Linked DNA regions of Homo sapiens. The protein of the gene in region 4 interacts with the protein of the main gene of each other region in a biochemical or structural test. Each region holds a gene or a part of one and is shown on either strand. Other genes may lie near its edges.

What was found. The genes of interacting proteins can lie anywhere in the genome.
Region 1: the proteins of FN1 (region 4) and TSHR form a complex in vitro, tested with the Homo sapiens proteins (one study listed by BioGRID).
Region 2: the proteins of FN1 (region 4) and LACRT form a complex in vitro, tested with the Homo sapiens proteins (one study listed by BioGRID).
Region 3: the proteins of FN1 (region 4) and THBS1 form a complex in vitro, tested with the Homo sapiens proteins (one study listed by BioGRID).

The regions. Positions count from the first base shown.
Region 1 is NC_000014.9:81,084,596-81,088,201, reverse strand, and holds part of TSHR (thyrotropin receptor isoform 1 precursor), read right to left. Parts: exon of another isoform or gene 287-3,606; coding exon of another isoform or gene 249-286; coding exon 174-248; exon of another isoform or gene 1-173. UniProt on the Homo sapiens protein: Receptor for the thyroid-stimulating hormone (TSH) or thyrotropin. Also acts as a receptor for the heterodimeric glycoprotein hormone (GPHA2:GPHB5) or thyrostimulin. The activity of this receptor is mediated by G proteins which activate adenylate cyclase.
Region 2 is NC_000012.12:54,632,015-54,636,199, forward strand, and holds the start of LACRT (extracellular glycoprotein lacritin precursor), read right to left. Parts: upstream 2,882-4,185; 5' UTR 2,828-2,881; coding exon 2,770-2,827; intron 1,220-2,769; coding exon 1,166-1,219; intron 368-1,165; coding exon 227-367; intron 1-226. UniProt on the Homo sapiens protein: Modulates secretion by lacrimal acinar cells.
Region 3 is NC_000015.10:39,587,554-39,591,159, reverse strand, and holds part of THBS1 (thrombospondin-1 precursor), read right to left. Parts: intron 3,119-3,606; coding exon 2,942-3,118; intron 2,635-2,941; coding exon 2,461-2,634; intron 2,202-2,460; coding exon 2,074-2,201; intron 1,959-2,073; coding exon 1,806-1,958; intron 1,356-1,805; coding exon 1,137-1,355; intron 645-1,136; coding exon 537-644; intron 1-536. UniProt on the Homo sapiens protein: Adhesive glycoprotein that mediates cell-to-cell and cell-to-matrix interactions.
Region 4 is NC_000002.12:215,360,261-215,363,070, reverse strand, and holds the end of FN1 (fibronectin isoform 1 precursor), read left to right. Parts: exon of another isoform or gene 1-418; coding exon of another isoform or gene 419-425; intron 426-991; coding exon 992-1,102; intron 1,103-1,444; coding exon 1,445-1,516; 3' UTR 1,517-2,206; downstream 2,207-2,810. Other genes in the region: bifunctional purine biosynthesis protein ATIC, read right to left, coding at 419-425. UniProt on the Homo sapiens protein: Fibronectins bind cell surfaces and various compounds including collagen, fibrin, heparin, DNA, and actin. Fibronectins are involved in cell adhesion, cell motility, opsonization, wound healing, and maintenance of cell shape.

The sequences.
Region 1 (3,606 bases), on a different chromosome or scaffold from region 4:
AATAGGTTTTAAAAATGTGGATCATTTCACCCGATACCTTGCCCCCGACCCAGGCTATACACCATTAAAATGAACCTGGACCACATCATCTAGGGAGATTCCTGGGAGACAACAGCATTAAATCTGACCCCCTCCCCCCAGAAAAGTAGGATGGGAGAGGATTTAATACTTACAGGAACTTTAGGAGGGGGAGCTCTTTGAGGGCATCAGGGTCTATGTAAGTTAAGTTCCTGGTATTCCGAATTTCTCTGTATAAGTTACAAGGAACACAGTCACTATAATGCATCCGTATCTGTTCTTATCAAAGACAAAACAACATAAATCAGTTTTAACAAACGTTCATGAGAAAAATATGCATTTACGCCACAGGGTACCCCAGGGGCTGTAGCTGCCAGGGGTCCCATCAATGACAAACTACTCCTGTCTCCTCACGGGGACCCAATGGCTGCTCAGCTCTTTTGCATTGTTGGCTTGGTTTCTGTCCACTTTAATTTATGGGCTACATTGTTCTTAATTGTAGTATCAGAATTTTTTTTCTTTTACATTTAGAGAAAAAAGAAAAATCCCTCCAATGATTTGGTGAGGAGTTGAAGACAAATATCTTTATTATTTATAAGTATTCTGGCCAAGACAATGAGTGTTGGAGTGGGAGGATGAGGGAATTTTATGATGAACGACAGCACAGCAAGATGGACAGTAAGGCTCTGTCATTGCCATACCAGATGTACAGAAGTGGTAAGTCTTCACAGTTCACTTGGGTTTATTTTGTCATGTCAGCAATCGAAGACACTTCTGCATGTATAGTGCAATATCGTGTGTCAGTAACTTACATACTTAGGTTTATATAAATGCTGATCAAGAATGCACAGTTAGCATTAGAGAAATAAGTAACTGCTAGAAATGAACTCTCACTGGTTAAATTAAACATATTCAACATAGGTTGATTGGCTAAAAGAGTTTAAGGCATTCCCTATGCTTACATGAAAAGTATATAAGAACCCAGTAAACCTTTAGCATTTCTCCTTAGGAGTGGCACCTAAAAGAACCAGCATCTAGTCATTGGTGGTACCAGTCAGAAAGCTTAGAATGTGACCTCTGTAATTTTTAAAGTTTTATTGAAAAAGAATTTACATTCCATAAACTTCAAACATTGTATGTAGGCATACAGTTCAATGATTTTTAGTAACATTACATGATTTTGAAACCATCATCACAGGTTAGAACATTTCTGTCAATGACAAAAGTAACCATAGGCCCATCTGCAGTTAGTCTCCACTTGCTCCTTTATGCCTAGAAACCACTGATCAGTTTTCTTTCTTTATAAATTTGCCTTATCTGGACATTTCATATAAATGGAATCATATAACAGGCAGTCTTTTGTGTCTGCCTTCTTTCATTTAGCATAATGTCTGTGAGGTTCATCCATGTTGTAACATGAATTAGTAGTTCACTCCTTTTTATTTCTGAATAGCCCAGATGGACTCGAAATAGAGTCTTGGCTCTGCCACTTCTGATTATATGACCTTGGACAAGTTTCTTGGCCTCTTTGAGCCATAGTTTTCCTGTCTGTAAAATAGGAACAATTAACAACACCTCTTTTGTGGGGCTTTTGTGAGGATTAAATAATATTCATGAGGGATTTTATGTTTGGCCTCCACATAGTTAGGGCTCTAAAATAATGCTTTTATTATTGTTATTTTCATAAGTGCAATGAAAGCTAGAAGAGACATCAGGGACTTGGGACTGGAGATGTTGTGACATTCTTGCAAAATTAGAAAAAACTCTCTGGTTTTTTCAACTAGGCATTTCAACTAAGGACACTGAATATGAAACAGACCTTGGAAAAGAGAGGATGGAGTTAACTCTGAGAACAGAAATCACCTACCTCTCTCCTCCCTAAACACACAGCTTACTGTCTATAATAATATACCCTTACTGGTCCATTGTCCTCATTAACATAACTACAATTCCAGGAGACTCTTGCCCAGGCAAATTGCTTTATTGTTCATTACAGAGAGTTTTTGAAACAAAGAACCATCAATGCTTCAACAGAAAGCATCAACAGTTTATACCCCAAGATCTTAGAACTCCTCACTTCCAAATCCTCACTATGCTAATCCTAAACTATTATGTCATGATTTTTACCTAAACAAGACCCTGCATGGAAAGATCCTCTTTATACAATCTTTCATTTTTTTGTCCTGGCTTTAAAATGCAAAGCCCATATCCTTGGAATTCCCTCTGTCTTGGGCAAAGTGTGACAGTTGGCCACCCTACTCCAAAATCTCATAATTTTCCCACCTTGCCCCTCTAGAGACTATCAATCTCTGTTGAGGTGGTTCTCTCTTTCCAGGGTGAGCAATAAACTCCTTGCCAGAGCTTTCCATTGGGGGAGGAGGGTTTGAACTACTGCCAGAGACAAACAGATGTAAACTAGATGCAGGAGTTTGGAAATTGAGCAGGGTTTGCAGTCTGGAAAATTGCTCCACAAGAGACTGTCGTTGAACGAGTAGTCCTGAGTGAGTGGTCTAAGAGAACGTCAGAGTGAAAGAAAATGCAGCCCACCTGGGTCAGCTGAAAAGGTAGAGAATAAAAGGGAAATGAAATGCAGCTGCTAGTAACAGTTGATTAAATGAGGCTGGCAACTTACATGGAGGCTGGAAGAGGAGAAATGTGGGAGAGGCAGCAAGGAGAGAGAAGGAAACATGAAGGAGGAGAAGATTTCTAGAAGGAAATGTAAGAGCTACAAAGGAGAAAGATGAATGAGAGACCCCACAAGAAAACAGCAGGGAAAAGAAGCTGCTTTCTGAGGTAAGGCAACAGCTTACCACTTGCTCACAAGTGACTTTTGAAAAGTATCTCCTGAAGCAGAGAAGGGGTGGAGTGGTCGTAGACTGCCAGTAGTTTAGCTAAATGGTGAGAGATAACAGCTGGGTGTGGTGGCGCATGCCTGTAAGCACTTTGGGAGGCCGAGACAGGTGGGAGGCCGAGGCAGGTGGATCAGTTGAGGTCAGGAGTTCAAGACCAGCCTGGGCAACGTGGTGAAACCCTGTTTTTACTAAAAATGCAAAAATTAGCCGGGTGTGGTGGCTTATGTCTGTAATTCCAGCTATTTGGGAGGCCAAGACATGAGAATCGCTTGAACGCAGGAGGCAGAGGTTGCAGTGAGCTGAGATTGTGCCACTGCACTCCATCCTGGGCGAAAAAGCAAGACTCTGTCTCAATCAATCAATCAATCATTAAATAGAGAGGTAACATAAGAAGCAAATGCAACTAGTAAAACCTATTCAAAGATAGGAAGAAAGGAAGGGCAGAAGTGAGTACAAAAGAACATCTAATCAGAGAAGGGTGAAAGAGGCGTTCAAATTTGAATGCCTTCAAGCATGCCTCTGAGGGTGAATTTGAATCACACCATTTTGAGTTAAGCAATTATGGCCTGAGTGTGCAGGAGGCTAGCTATGCTGCCAGAAAGCTGGAGACATTGGAAGAAAGAAAAGCTGTTTGTAATACAGCACACTAGGAATGGAGATGCCCTCCAGAGCTGAAGATGGCTGTGCCTCCAGCAACCTGAGGCCCTGAGTGACTGCCTGAAGGTGGCTGCTCTGT
Region 2 (4,185 bases), on a different chromosome or scaffold from region 4:
GTTGTGTGAGCCAGGACAGAAACCATGTATTGTGCAGGCTGCAACATCTACTATTGTGAAAACGTTGTGTGTGGGTGCAATGCACAATCCCATTTGTGCCTTTGTGTTCAGCTGTTTGAGTCTACCTGCTTCTCACCAGGCTTATCTCTGTGCGTGGAGGTGTGATGTGGGCCTGCAGCCAGAGACTTTTCTAGGTTGTTGATCTGGCATAGAGACAGAGACTTACTCAGGGGGTTTAGTTCCTGCCTGCTTGAGGTGACCTTGGCTGTCCCCTGAACTGCTGCCGCCGAAGTCTCCTGGGCTGTTGTGGTTGTCTCTGGGGGTGAAGCTGGTTCTGCTGGACCTGAGATCTCTTCATTAGGCTTAGCTGTGAATGCACAAATTGATGGATTTTAGCAAAGTGAAAGTGTTTGTTTCTTTTGGAATGGGTTGCAGGGCCCCAGGATACCTAATGTGTGCTGGGTGCCAGGATACAGAAGTGATATGGCTTAAACGCTGCCCCCTTAAGGGAGATAGCATTTCTGCATGCTGTGTGTCTCTTGGAATGCAGCGGGCAGGGTTGGGGAAGGATTTGGACTAGGGGATGGTGAGAATCGGGGAGCACTTCATAGAGAAGCTGGATCTTGAAGGCAGGATGTTAGCAGGAGAGGATGTACCAAAGGGGCTTCCCTGGGGGCAGGCAGTGAGTAAGAGGTCAGGCGAAGGCATGTGTGGGGAATGGAAACAAGTTCAATTTAGCTGATGTGGGTGCGACATAAAAGAGAGTCATGGAAAATGGGGTTGGAAAATGAGGTTAGAGGCCAGATAATGGTTATCTTGCTAAGGAATTGGGAGTAATGGGAGGTGTTTGCAGGTGAAGGTATTAATGCCATGTGAGACATTGCCCTTACCACTTAACCTCATGTTTCTCTCCCTTTTATTCACAATAACCTTTTCCCCATGCTCCCTATTGTCCTTGCCTCTCTGGGTCATCCTCTTTTGTCCTTAGCCTTGTACCATTTCAACCCATGCCACCTTCTTTATTATATTACCTGCCCCTCCCCATTACCACCAAGCACAGAATCCAGATCTCCTCCCACTGGCTTCTTCTCCCAGCCACCACTCACATCCCTAACTGTTAAACCTTCCCAACGAGGGCTAGGGCAGCAGGGAGAGGAGGACTCACAGGTCCCAGCTTCCTGGGCAGGATCAGCACCCGTCGAGTCAGAGGAGGCATCTTCTGCAATGGGGGAAACATGCCAGATGAGAGCAAGGACCGAACCGGACCTACTCGAGCCACCCTCCCCTCCCATTCCCAAAGCTTATCTCCTGGGAATGCTCATGGATAGAAGGGGATCAATTTCCCTTTGGGTTGGACATGCCCTTCCACCATATCAGCGGGTCTACTGGGGCACTCTCTGATGTTTAACTCCTGTGGCTTTTGAAATAACTTCCCCTCTGAGAAGTGTAATGTCTCTTGGAACAGTGCCTTCCTCCTGACTGGCCCCTGGCTTGGTAGGCTTCCCTGAGGTGTCTGTCATGGAGCTGGCCATGGTCAGAGGGGCTCAACCTCCTCTGTGGTGGAGGAGGACAGTATGTGGGGGTTATGGGGCCATATTTGAGCGATTTGCAGGATTGAGACCCCAGCCTTGATTCCCTTTATTCTTTCAACACAACATTTATGCAAAGCTCTGTGCCAAGAGATGGAGGTGCAGTGCTGAAGAGGGCAGACAAGACCCCTGCCCTGACAGAGCTTACATCTGTCCTTTTACGAAATTATTTAATGGCTGGTGTGACAGTGCTGGAAGGGAACGTGCAGCCTGGTGCGAGAAGGGCACATGGATCTGATTTGTTCCGCATGTGCATGGAAGGCCTTTTTGGGGAATTATATGTAAACTGAGATTTTCTAGATGAAAAATCATTGGCCAGGTGACATTAGAGTTGGTTGGGGGAAGGGGCCAGGGAGAGGGAAAGCATTCTAGACGAGGAAAGGACAAGAAGGAAGATCCTGATGTTCAAGGAACAGCAGGATCATCATGGCCCAAATAGTGCTTCTGTGGATCAAAAAAGGCATCCCAGCAGGGCACGGTGGCTCACGCCTGTAATTCCAACACTTTGGGAGGCCAAGGCAGTCGGATCACCTGAGGTCAGGAGTTCGAGACCAACCTGGCCAACATGGTGAAACACCGTCTCTACTAAAAATACAAAATTAGCTGGGCAAGGTGGCATGAGCCTGTAGTCCCAGCTACCCAGGAGGCTGAGGCAAGATAATCGCTGGAACCCAGGAGGTGGATGTTGCAGTGAGCAGAGATCGTGCCACTGCACTCCAGCCTGGGCAACAGAGGGAGACTCGGTCTCAAAAAAAAAAAAAAAAAAAAGGCATCCCTTCCTCCTAAGAGACACAGCCAGGGGCCAGGCTCACTGCTTGGCAAGTAGAGTGTCGGCCAGATTTTAGCTTCTACCACTCCTTGCCTGGGCACCCTCGTGTAGGGGACACCCTGCTCAACTACATGCAGGGGACACCAGAGAAGCCAGTGTAGCTGAGGCATAGTGGGTAAACAATGGTGTGTGAGGAGATGAGCTGGGAGGGCAGGCAGAGGCCAGAGAGTTCTGGGTTCCTCTGGCCAGTGGGGTGCAGAGGCCACGTGTGGAGAACTGGGAGAGGAGTCACTTGCAGAGGCAGGGAAACCAGAATAGCACTGAGAGAGGAGGAGAGGGGTGAAGGCAGGAGTGAGGGGCTCCTTGGACTGGGAGGACTCTTGTGGGGCGCAGAGGAAAGGCCATACTCACCAGCATAGACCAGGGCCCCTGCTACAGCTGCCAAGAAGAGGAGAGTGGTAAATTTCATTCTTTGGGATGAGGAGTGAGTATAACCACAGAATCTGCAGAAGGTCTGGGGAATAAGGATGCTGAAATTGCTGGGCCCTTTTAAGGATATCAAGGGCCAATGGGAACCAAGCCTGGAGAGGTGTGACTTCCGCATCCTCCTCCCCTTCTTCCCCAAACTGTCACCTGCTAAGTCAACAAGGGCTAGGTTGGGCTGGCTGATACCTGGGATCCTTGCAGGCAGGTCCTGGATAGGAGCCTTTCTCTAACTCCCAGCCATCCCTTTTCTTTCTCCCTCCTCCCTTCCCCACCACACCTGCCCTCTGGGTTCACACCCCTGGGCTCTCAGGGACGGTAGGTAGAGCACATTTCACTTGGGGAGATTCTGGGATGTGTCTGTTGAGGGTTCTGGTAGAGAAATCTTAATCTTGTCATCTCTCCAGGAGGAGGTTGAGGGCTCAGGGGATTACATTGTCCACCTTCTGTCCCAGTCTACATAGGACTCAGTGCAGGGTTTGAAGGTTTCCCCAAACTAAGTGAGCCCGTTTCCTTGGGAGACCACACCTAGAACACTTGAGGCCTGAGTTCCTGGCTGCTTTCTCCCCATGAGGGGATGGGTTTGAAGGCGTGTGTGCCTTCTCTGGAGTTGTTCTCTGTTCTTGACATTATCCAGCCCCTAAAAAGAACTCCTCCAGGCTCACATAGGCCTGTCAATCTCTGTCTTCAGGCCTACTCAATGGGACCCCACATTTCTGAGAGAATCTCCTGGTCAAAGCATGATGGTGGTTCACTGAAATTGGAGCTTGGTTCTGACTTCAAGTGGGGAGCTGACCCATGGTGTGAATAATCCAGAAAAGCAGATTATTCTAAAGAAGCTTCTCTTTGACTTGGCGTTTCTTCCTTTCCTGATCTGGGACTCTAGAGGTCTGGATTTTGAGTTCTGGCTTTGTCATATGAAAATGTTAGGATTTGAAAAGTGATAGGATTTTTATTTGTTGTCTAGGAGTTGTGGCTCCTATGTACAGCATAGTGGTGGAGATTAAGTGGGATAATATACGGCAAAGCATTTTTTTAGACAGCGAAGTTCTATGGAGTTGTGTGGGGTTCTTGTACCATCTTTCCAAGTAGGTTTTTGTCCAGGCTGGTGCTAAATGCTAGATATTAATAGAACGGGCCGTGGAGCAGGAGTCAGTTGAGGGGCTGAAGGGTGGAGAATAAGGTGCTGGATGTCAATTTGTGACTTTCCCCTTGCTTGGTGTTGGCATTCACCCAGCCCCATGTGGGCTGATTCCGGAGGCTTCTCTGCCTCATGGTAGCTCTGAAGATGAGTGTGAGAAGGGGGTATTGAAGAGTTTTCAACATGAGGGTGTTTTGGGTGCC
Region 3 (3,606 bases), on a different chromosome or scaffold from region 4:
TGTTGTCCTTGAAAACAGCTCAAGCCTCAAACCATGTGCATAATATGTCTAAAACTGTGAAAATCAGCAATACTTTCTACCTAGTGGATAGGCTAATTGATCACTCAGTGTAAAACGATCACTACAAAAGTTAAAAGGACATAGTTAAAAAAATGGATCCCTGTGGGTTAGAAGTTAGTGAGATGTAGAATATAATCCCATCATCTCAGTTCATAGTGTGCCCAAAGTCAATTTTACTGTAATTTCGATGTGACATTTGAAATGAATCTAGGGAACAAAGTGGCATTTGTTTATGCATTATAATTTCTCAAGTACAGAGAAAAACAGTTCTGATGAAAAACAAAACCCTCATTTAAAAATTCTCTTGGCAACATCTACATCCTTAAACTACTGGAACACAATGAATAATTTCTAATTATCCTGTGTATTGATTTGGTATATTTTTTGCTATAGCCATGTAATTTCCTTGAATCCCAAAGTGTTTCAGGCTGTTGCTGAACTGAAAAGATGAAAAAGGGATAGAAAACTGTTTTTACCCTGTCATCTGGAATTTTATCATTGTCATCGTCATCATCACAGGCATCACCAATTCCATCCTTGTCATAGTCTTCCTGCCCTGAGTTGGGAAGGTTGGGGCAATTATCCTAGGAAAGAGAAGATATATATCACTGCTTCAGTTGCCTTCCTCATGCTGAGCTCATGCACGAGGGAGTGTACCTGGAATTCCAAATAGAAAAAGAACAGAATTTGGCTCAGTAACAGCATATTTTTTTTATGGGAAGACAAGAAAATAAAACTTTTCTTGGGGGATATACATACAGAATTTGTGTAAATGCTCTAGGCTTTATAGATGTTGTGAACACAAGTCATGCTTTGCTGGTATTTGGATAGAGTACTGAACTTTTTTTTGGACAGAAGAGTTGACTATGGAACACAGTTGCCCAAAAAGAGCTAGCCCTGTTCATGTTTTTGGCACCAAGTGATTTAATTTTAATAGGAATTAGTGCCCCTCTCCCTTTGGGAGATTTAATCTTTCAGTTTCATGTCCAAACTTTAAGTATTTAAAATTCCTTAGCCTGTGTTTTGATAAGGTGATGGGCCCTCTTTCTGGAGGCACACAAAGGACCTGGCTCTACCTTTTTGCAGTGGTAAGTCGCATTGGCCACGCACACCAGGTTCTCATTGGGCCAGCCATCCAGGTCTGTGTCCTCCCCGCAGATGATGCCATTGCCAGCGTAGCCAGGCTTGCACTCGCAGCGGTACATGGGGTCGCTATAGTGGCCCAGGTAGTTGCACTTGGCGTTCTTGTTGCAGTCGTGGGTCCCATCCGTGCAGGGGTTACGGGGCTTGCACACCTGAGGGTACACCATGCTGCTGTTACACAGAGCTTTTGAGAATCCTCAGATATCATGGAAACAAGAATCCAGATCCCTGTCATCTCTGAGTAGACAGAGGCTCCATTTGGAAGAGTGTGGGTTACCTCTGTCCCTCCCCATTCTCCCTGAGGCTATAAGCAAACTTTGCTTTATGTTTATTTTTCTTGAATTTGCTCAGCACCTAGGCGTTTACAAGTCCATCTGCTCACAACTTATTCCAGAGCAGCATTTTTAAATATGGAAGACTGTTTTTCCCCTGCAGGATTTACCATGGATTTTCTAATCACGTTTCTAAAACTAGACCGTACATTCATCTCCTCGCCCTTTTTTTTTTGGTGAAGGGTATGAAATTACATTCCTCCCGCTCCCAGTTATTTTGGTCAAGGACAGCTCTCCTGTCCTCTGGTTTACTCGTCTAGTTGACTGTACCTGTTTGTTGGCCGTGGCATGTTCGACACCCTGGCCGAAGGGCTGTGAGCCGGTGAAGCGTGGGGGGCAGGGCAGGCAGTTGTAGCCGGGGTCCGTGTTCTCACACCGGTGCTCTCCATTGTGGTTGAAGCAGGCATCAGGCACTTCTTTGCACTATGGAGGAAATAAGAGCGTGCATCATGTTTAGAAGTCACTGCCATAAGGAAGCGACTGCACAGGTTAGCTGCTTTCCTAGATCCAGAAACTCGGAGCCCCATCAGTTCCTCACCTCATCAACATCTGTGCACTGGATGCCATTTCCACTGTAACCAGGGGGACAAGCACCACATTTCCAGCTGCCATCAGGGTAGCTAGTACACTTCACGCCGGCAAAGCAGGGATTGGACAGGCATCCATCTGAGACAAGGAGAGAGAGACAGTCACAGTAAATGGTTGGTCTAAGCTGCCATACTGCCATGCTGGGCACTTAACACAGTGTAAGATATTATAGGGTATAGGGAACCGATAACTTGTTGGGATTATGTTGTCCACCTGCATCTTAGAGCAATCAAATCGCTCAGGACTAACCAAGCTGGAATCTCCTCGAATGCTGACTGCAGCATTCAGTAAAAGAGCAAAGCTCCTGGGTCGTTTCATCCTGGGCTGCGTGGCTCACCAATTGGACAGTCCTGCTTGTTGCAGATCTGGTTTTCTGTTACATCACCAACGCAGTCCTTGCCTCCAAACTGGGGTGTGGGGTTGTTGCAGAGACGACTACGTTTCTGTACCCCTCCTCCACAGGTGACAGAACAGATGTCCCATGGTGACCAAGGACCCCAGCCTCCATTGACTGTAAGAAGATGAACCACAGGCAACAATTAAGATCAACTTTCAAATCCCTCCCTTGTCATAGACTCTCCTAAGCCCGTTCAAGAAACCTCTGCTTCTCTGACACATGGAAAGAATGCTGGGGAAGAGGGTGAGTTTGTTTTTCATTAAAAGAAGTTGCTGAGCCTGCAGGACTTTGCTTCTGTTTGTTTCTCTAGTAGGTAACCTTCCTGCTCTATGACCCACTGAACTGCAGGCTGCAGATGCCAGGCAACCAGCTGGGCAGAGCTGCTGCCCATGCTCACCCTTGCAGCGGACCTCACACTTACTGGGGCAGGCGTCTTTCTTGCAGGCTTTGGTCTCCCGCGCTTCGCCTTCACAGGGTTTCCCGTTCATCTGGGGGCTGGGAGAGTTGCAGAGCCGGATCCTTGTGATCACACCATCACCACATGTCACAGAACAAGATGACCACGGGGACCAGTGGCTCCAGCCACCATCCTGTTTAACTAAAGTACAGAGTTGATGGTCACAAATGGTTTTGGCTTAGAGACAGCCAAATAGAGGCTCCCATCAGGAGCACGCAGAAGTATTTCCAGGAAATGGTCAATGGCAACTAAACCCAGTGTACGGTAGAAATTGGCTCCTGGCCACATGCCCAAATGTCAACATGGAATGTTTTCTACCAGAGAACGGATAAGTTCGCTGTTTTTATGGGTTGCTGTTAATATCCTAACATTTACAGGGTGCTTACCATAAACCAAAACTCAGTGCTAACTGCTTTACATGCAGTATCTAAATAAAATGCTCAAGATAAACTTATCAAGAACTATTATTATCTCCAAGTTGCAAATGAGGAAAGAGCCTCAGAGAGGGTAAGTTGTGTTCAAGGGTGCACAGCTAAGCAGTGGGATTGGGATCCAGAGATCCTAGAACCCGTGTTCTTAATATACATGCTGTGGAGCTGCCCTTGGTGACGACAACAAGGACAGGTCAG
Region 4 (2,810 bases):
GAAATATGTCTAAAATATTTAAATTCTAATATAAAAAAGAAAGTGACTGTATTATTTAGGGCTGCATTTTAGTTGTAAGAAAAAAGTCCAACTCAAGCAAAAATGGCCCACACAATGGAACAGTCCCAGGACCCACCGGCTTCAGGGGCTGCTCCAGCAATGGCGCCCGGACTCCCTCTTGCTCCGCGTGCCTTCCCATGCACTGGCTTCGTGCTTCAGCGGGGTCTCTGCTGATGGTGCCATTGATGACTGACCTCCATGAGCTTGCTTTACCCCCTGCCAGCTTAAGAACAGTAGTGAAAGAGAACATGTGTGTCCTCCCATTTCCAGTAAAAACTTCAGGCAGGAGCCTCACTGGCTCAGCTTGGTCCCGTTTCCATCTCCCATGCCATCTCCGGCCAGGTGACAGGCTACCATGTCACTGCCTAGGGAAGTTTAGGAAGAGAGTGGCAAAGTGGTGCATTAGAAAGAACATGGCCAGGTCACCCCACCTCCTGGGCGGCAGGCCCAACTCCACCAGTGGTCCACTGTGTGACTTCCCTGCTCCCTCTAAGCAAGTCACTCCTCTCCTCTGGGTCTCTGTTTCCTTACCTATAAAATGAGAACGTTTCTTCATGTGATCTCAAGTCCCTTTTAAAATCGCTAGGATTCTTTGAAAACCTTTTCTATCATCTAGTGCAGAGAACTTGTTGAGGAAGTTGGGATTGGAATGAGCCTCAGCAGATGGGCAAGGTTTGAATAGGAAGAGAAGAGACATTTCAGGAGAAAGAAACAACATAGAGAGACAGATGTAGGTATAAGATATGGTAATAAGCCAAAATGTATTAAGAGTTATAAATGCATGAAATCATCATCAAAGCTTGCTTAGTGATTAACTGCTTATATTTTGCCAGTGCATATGATGTGACATTTTTCTTTAACTCAAACACTAAATTACGATGTCCTCAGGTTATCATAAACCCCATTTGACTTCATGCCTCTACTCTCTCAGGGCTGGCGCTGTGACAACTGCCGCAGACCTGGGGGTGAACCCAGTCCCGAAGGCACTACTGGCCAGTCCTACAACCAGTATTCTCAGAGATACCATCAGAGAACAAACACTGTAAGTGCATTAGCAGCACAAGTGTGTTCCCTCATACTAGACAGTCTCTTTCTACAGGTATCTTTCTTCAGAATGAACCAAGTGTTTTAATTAATTAAAAAAAAAAACAACTCATAAATGACTTAAGTGAAACACTGTATTCCATAATATAGTTTAAGTTATAATTTATGTAACTCTTGAACATCTCCTATTGCCCAGTATGCTGCTAGGTTCTTGAAACTAGGAAGAAATATTATCCTATCTATAAGCAGCTGTCATGAGTCCCCACCTCCCCGCATTTTTTTTTCTGTACACTTTACAGTATTTGCCACTAATTTTTTTTTCCTTCTTCCTTTTTAACAGAATGTTAATTGCCCAATTGAGTGCTTCATGCCTTTAGATGTACAGGCTGACAGAGAAGATTCCCGAGAGTAAATCATCTTTCCAATCCAGAGGAACAAGCATGTCTCTCTGCCAAGATCCATCTAAACTGGAGTGATGTTAGCAGACCCAGCTTAGAGTTCTTCTTTCTTTCTTAAGCCCTTTGCTCTGGAGGAAGTTCTCCAGCTTCAGCTCAACTCACAGCTTCTCCAAGCATCACCCTGGGAGTTTCCTGAGGGTTTTCTCATAAATGAGGGCTGCACATTGCCTGTTCTGCTTCGAAGTATTCAATACCGCTCAGTATTTTAAATGAAGTGATTCTAAGATTTGGTTTGGGATCAATAGGAAAGCATATGCAGCCAACCAAGATGCAAATGTTTTGAAATGATATGACCAAAATTTTAAGTAGGAAAGTCACCCAAACACTTCTGCTTTCACTTAAGTGTCTGGCCCGCAATACTGTAGGAACAAGCATGATCTTGTTACTGTGATATTTTAAATATCCACAGTACTCACTTTTTCCAAATGATCCTAGTAATTGCCTAGAAATATCTTTCTCTTACCTGTTATTTATCAATTTTTCCCAGTATTTTTATACGGAAAAAATTGTATTGAAAACACTTAGTATGCAGTTGATAAGAGGAATTTGGTATAATTATGGTGGGTGATTATTTTTTATACTGTATGTGCCAAAGCTTTACTACTGTGGAAAGACAACTGTTTTAATAAAAGATTTACATTCCACAACTTGAAGTTCATCTATTTGATATAAGACACCTTCGGGGGAAATAATTCCTGTGAATATTCTTTTTCAATTCAGCAAACATTTGAAAATCTATGATGTGCAAGTCTAATTGTTGATTTCAGTACAAGATTTTCTAAATCAGTTGCTACAAAAACTGATTGGTTTTTGTCACTTCATCTCTTCACTAATGGAGATAGCTTTACACTTTCTGCTTTAATAGATTTAAGTGGACCCCAATATTTATTAAAATTGCTAGTTTACCGTTCAGAAGTATAATAGAAATAATCTTTAGTTGCTCTTTTCTAACCATTGTAATTCTTCCCTTCTTCCCTCCACCTTTCCTTCATTGAATAAACCTCTGTTCAAAGAGATTGCCTGCAAGGGAAATAAAAATGACTAAGATATTAAAAGTATTTGAATAGTATAATATGGAGGAGTTTTATCTTAGGGAAACCCCATGGTATGATAACCCCCATCTAACATGTCTTACTTTGGGTCAGCTGACACTTTTGGCATGGCTTGATAAACTCCCAGCTAAACAGTTTGTTTACTCCTGATCTGTAAAGGTCATTTCTTTTTCAATTTAACATTGAGGAAACAAAC